Linked DNA regions of Homo sapiens: region 1 is linked to region 2. The links come from fine-mapping of genetic effects on gene expression. Tissue or cell type: blood mononuclear cells. Region 2 holds a variant in brackets; the other region holds the start of a gene. All regions are shown on one strand. Distances are between the middles of the regions.

Evidence for each region. PIP is the estimated chance that this variant, and not a neighbour inherited with it, causes the effect.
Region 1: it holds the start of ARHGAP45, and the variant in region 2 is fine-mapped to the expression of ARHGAP45 in blood mononuclear cells (TOPMed, PIP 0.95).

Annotation. Positions count from the first base shown.
Region 1 is chr19:1,065,525-1,068,161 of GRCh38, reverse strand. ARHGAP45 (Rho GTPase activating protein 45) reads right to left here and starts at 995. Exons shown (of 23, transcript NM_012292.5): 1 at 667-995. The coding sequence starts at 756. ABCA7 (ATP binding cassette subfamily A member 7) reads right to left here. Exons shown (of 47, transcript NM_019112.4): 47 at 2,590-2,637. RefSeq lists silencers at 1-115, 426-1,185 and an enhancer at 1,046-1,552.
Region 2 is chr19:1,093,581-1,096,080 of GRCh38, reverse strand. It overlaps POLR2E (RNA polymerase II, I and III subunit E), which reads left to right and starts at 706. Exons shown (of 8, transcript NM_002695.5): 1 at 706-822; 2 at 2,003-2,177. The coding sequence starts at 766. RefSeq lists enhancers at 673-762, 1,520-2,055. The variant C/T (reference allele first, on the strand shown) is at 1,206.

The DNA.
Region 1 (2,637 bases), 28 kb after region 2:
GCGGGAGGGGGGTCCCCACTTCCTGGTGGGGGTGGGGAGGGTCCTCAGCCCTTCAAGCCCCCCTCAGGCTCCTACAACGCAGGTGCTTTAAGTGAACACACTTCTGACTCTGTCTGTCCCCTAAAGGTCCATGGAACCCCAGAGCCTATGGGCAGCCCCAGGCCTTGTAGACATCCCGGACCCCCAAGCTCTGTAGACCCCCCCCCCAGCTTTGTAGACACCCCAGGCCTGGGGACACTCCCCAACCTCTGAACCTGGTGGATCCCATTAGAGGATCTGCTGCCCGGTCAACCTTCAGCCCAATGGCCAGGCCACAGCCCTCCCATCTCAACGGCCCCTAGAGCCCCCAGATTGCCTAAGCCCCCAACCTGCAGCGGCCCAAACACAACATCGTCCCAACCCGGCACCCTCCCTTCCTGCTCCCTGGGCCCCGCGGCCAGCCCTGGATGGAGTGGAGGGAGGCGGCCACCACTCCCAGGGTCCCTACCGTGAGCTGAATGCCGGGGTCCCGGCCTCTCTGCTGTGGCCCCTGCCGTCCCGCCCGGTAGGGGCTGTAGCTGGCACGAGCCCCCAGCCGCCGCCCCAGCATGAGCCCCGAGCACAGGGCGGGTCCCTGTCCCCCTGCGGCCCGGCGTCAGCTCCGGGTCTCACCCGGGCTCCACTCACCCCCGAGGGCTGCGGGCTGGGGCTTCCCGCGCGGTTCTTTTTCGAGATGGAAGGGGTTTTCATGAGCTCTCGTTTCTTCCTGGAGAACATGATGGGGCCCCGGCCGGGAGCCCGAGGGGGCGGGCTGGGGGTCTCAGCGCTGCAGCTCCCGGCGCTGGCCGCTTCGGGACCACATTGTCGCCGGCCACCCCCTCCCCAGCTGTCAGGCCCACGTGACAGGCCCGGCCGTCACTGGCGGGCCCTCCCCCCAACAGGAAAAGGCTTCGGGGAGGCGGCGACGCGGCCTCGCCCCCGACCCTTCCCGGCCTCAGCCTGCGGCTCTGCGGAGTGGGCGCGAAGGTGAGGTCGCAGGCCCCGCCCCCAGCCCCGGGCCGCGCCCCCCGCTTCCGCCTTCGGGAGCTCGGAGCCGCGCCGCTCGCGGGGTGGGACCGGGAGCCCCTGCCTGACGCTGGCGGGCACGGGGCGGCCGACTGCAGGGCGCTGACTCTCACTCCCGGACGCGAGTGGGCGTGCACAGACACGTGCACGATGACACGCAGAGACCCGGACCTCCACACGCGCTCAGACGCCACCAAGCCCCTGGAGCCTCGCCCTCAGACCCCAGACACACGCACAGGCCGAAGCTGCGCCCCTGCAGCCCCCTTTTCCCTGAAGGCAAGCCCGCTCCACCGCCTCTCCTGCAGACCCTAGGGTGTGGCCGGGCCCCAGCAGGGCCGGGCAGAGTAGGGTCCCCCCCATCACCCGCCCTGCAGCCCCGTGAAGTGGGTCAGGTCGAGGACAGGTGGGGAAACTGAGGCCCAGAACCGAAACCCTGGGGGCAAAGACGTCCAGGAAGTCAGAACAATCCAGGTTACCGGGCCCTGTCCGTCTGGGTCCCCACGTCCGTCTGGGTCCCCACGTCCACCTGGTCCTGGGCTGCCTGCACAGGGGTCCCCAAAGTGTGGTGTGGACCCCACCATCGGCAGAATATGCTGAGGACACCTGGTTACCTCTCAGCAGCCCTGTGGGCCATATCATGTTGCCCCAGACCTGCCCTTAGCTAAGGTCCCCAGCCCCGCCTCCCAAGCTGCATTCCAGTGACTCTGGACCACCGGACGTGCTGGGCAGCAGGACGCAGGCACCCGTTGCTGATAACAGCCTGAGGCGGCATTGGCCAAGAGCTGGGGCATCTGCAGGCATACAGATCCCAGCCTCCTACCTTCCCCCAACCCCCACCCCGCAGTGTGAACTCTCTCCCCCCTCCCCAAGTCTCCCTGCTGTCCCCTTCCAGAACCCCACCCCCAATCCCAAAACCCCAACCTCTTTCCTTTCCCAAACCCCATTCCCACCTACCTCGGGTGGGAGGGGCAGATCTCTGGGGCACAGGACATGAAGGCCACAGCCCCTTGCTCCAAGTCTGGCTCTCCAGGCCCAGGTCCAAGTGCAAACCCAGCCCAGCAGACCCTTGAGAACTCTTTGCCCCCGACTCATGGCGCTGAGGGCTGGGGTCAGAGGGTGAGGGTCAGCTGGATGTCGGATGGGCTTCTGGCCCGGCCCTGGCCTGTGCTCCGGGACACCGGGCTCCTGTAAGCTTCCCAGGACATTCCTGAGTCCTGACCTCATCCCCACTTTATGGCCAGGCACTTACAGGTACCGCCCTTAGGCGCCAGCCCCACATAGGCACGCAGGGACGTGGGGACAGGGACGGTGTGACCAGGCCCTTATGAGGCCCGCACTCACATCCCCAACTCCTGGGCTGGCCACAGAGGCATTTACAGCTGGGATCCGGTCAGCTGTAGGCACGCTCACACCTGTGTCCTATGAATCGCCACTTGGCCCGTATGTGCACACTCAGCTTGCAAGGGGCCAGCCATATCCAGACGCATGTGCAGGCAGCTGTGTGGACATGTGTGCAGCCTGGCTCAAGGACACACATGCACACGGTTTCACCACCACGGCTTCTCTCCAGCCTTCTCTTTATTTTCTCCAGGG
Region 2 (2,500 bases):
CATCACTGAATAAGTTACTGATAGCCTGCACACAGGAAGTGTTGGGCTGGGGTTCTCCGTGAACCTGGGGAAGTGAGGAGGTTTGCAAAGACAGGAAGAGTCTGGGGTGGGGAGATACCCAGGCTAGGCTGGGGAGATACCCAGGCTAGGCTGGTGGCGCTCAGGGGAGAGGACAGAGGTGAGGGGACTTAATAAGCACCTAGAGAGATGCCTAAGACTCTCAGTTAACCGTCTAAAGTAGGGACACTTTATTGCCATTGCACAGGTAGGGAAACTGAGGCCCAAGGGAATTAACCCTGACCTGGCCAGGAGCCAATGGAGGAAACCCTGTACAGTTTGATGCACAAATATTTATAGAGTTCCCACTAGGCTCCCAGACCATCCCTAGGAGCCGAGCTGCCCCTTGACCCCATCCAGGCCTCAGTTTCCCCGCTCACACTTCGCCCCCGCCTCGTGGGATTCTAAACTGTTGCTCCAAGGTGGGAGTTGAACGGAAACTACAACTCCCGAGAGGCTGTGCGGCCAAAGACACACGAGAACTACGGAGGCGAGAGACTCGCTCAGCCAACTGCCGCTCTCGTAAGGCTCGGGCTGCCCTTGGCGCTGCCGATCCGAGACGTTGCTGCATTCAGGCATTCGCCGACGACAGACCAGCGCGGGGCGGGGTTAGGCGGAGGGGGCCTGATTCGGATTCGGCGCAGGCGCAGTCCGCGCGGGTTCTCGCGCGGAGAAGGGGTGCGAGCGGCGGCGGCGGCGGAGGCTGCCATGGACGACGAGGAGGAGACGTACCGGCTCTGGAAAATCCGCAAGACCATCATGCAGGTGAGCCGCGCCTGGTGTTGGGGGCGGGGGCGCGGGCGGCGGGTGTAGGGGCCCGAGGTGGGGTCGAGCACGGCGTCTCCTCGTACTCTCGTCGGAGCAGCAGCGATGAAGGGCCGGGCCGATACGGGAGGCCCAGAGGTCGCCGGGGATACCAGGCGCTGGACCCGACCTGAGCCGGCAGCGGGGAAGGGAGGGGGTTTCGAGACGTCTGGGTGCGGTGCTTAGGGGTGGGTGGGCGGCTTGGGCTGGTGCGGCGCGCGTGGCGGCGAGAGGAGGAGGAAGCCGCGAATGGGGACGGGGGGCGCCCCCAGACTCTGCCCTTCTCTGTGATTCAGCGTCGCTATTTGTCCTTGCGTCCTGAACCCCATGGAGTCTTCAGCATC[C/T]GAGGCTGGCAGAGTTGGTGGTTGGGAAGCAGCGGGCGAGCTGGGGCTTTCGATGGGGACGTGGAGCTCGGAACCCGTGCCTTGGGGTCTGGGGCAGATGGAGGCCACTGGGTCGAGTCCGGTTTGGAAGCCGGGCACAGGCCTGAGGACCTGCGGTTCAGGGTATTGCCTCAGCCATTGGGGCCGTTTGAGAGCTTTTGCTTTGTCTTGCTTCCCACCCTTTGCCCTTGTCCTCAGCGAAGCCCCCCGCAGCCTGATTCTTCTTTCTCCGATCCTCAAACATTGTCAGCCTGAAGTCACATCTGTTTCGGTCCCTGTCATTTTTTTTTTTTAAGAGATAGGGTTTCATTCTGTCGCCCAGGCTGCAGTGCAGTGGTGCAATCATAGCTCACTGCATCCTTGAACTGGCCTCCAGCAACCCTCCTGCCTCAGCCTCCCTAAGTACTGGGATCACGGGCGTGAGCCTCCGCGCCCCGCCTTTGTCCCTGCCTTTAGGGTAGCTCTGCAAAGTGGTTTGGAGGGCTTTGCTCCCTGCCAGGTTTCTGTGAGGCTGGGTGGACAGACGGTCTTGGTCAAGGCTGGACATCTCTGGGAGCCTCTCAGGATCATACTGGTCCCATCCTGTGGTGTGAGGCTGTGGGGGCCGGGGTGGCTGTCATGGAGCACACAGTGAGTGTTCATCCCGTTTGCTGTTCACCTCTGTCCTCTGCAGCAGCCGCAGGTCTGACTTCCGGGTCACGAGCTTTGGCCGCCTTCCTCTCTCTGCCCTGGGGTCAGCTGGTTCTTTCTCTCTGCAGCTGTGCCACGACCGTGGCTATCTGGTGACCCAGGACGAGCTTGACCAGACCCTGGAGGAGTTCAAAGCCCAATCTGGGGACAAGCCGAGTGAGGGGCGGCCGCGGCGCACGGACCTCACCGTGCTGGTGGCCCACAACGATGACCCCACCGACCAGATGTTTGTGTTCTTTCCAGGTGAGCAGCGGGTCCCGGGGGAGTTCCGGTGAAGCCACCAGAGCACCTGCCGAGGAGCCGGTCGCTAGCACCCACCCCCACTCGCCTGGTGCCCAGCATTTGTCTCTCTGCCCAGTCTGGGAGGAAAACTCCCCTCCCCTTCCTTGCTGTGGGTGATGCCGTTGATCTCTGACCCCTCTCATGCTCAGCTTCTTTCTAGTTTCCCTCTCAGTCCCCTTCTCTCTTCCTGCCAACGAGGAGAGTCACAAGGGCCTCCCCACTCACCCCCAGCCCCCCATGTCCTTTGCCCTAGTGTCCCTTGGCTCCCCCATCCTGGCCGTTGG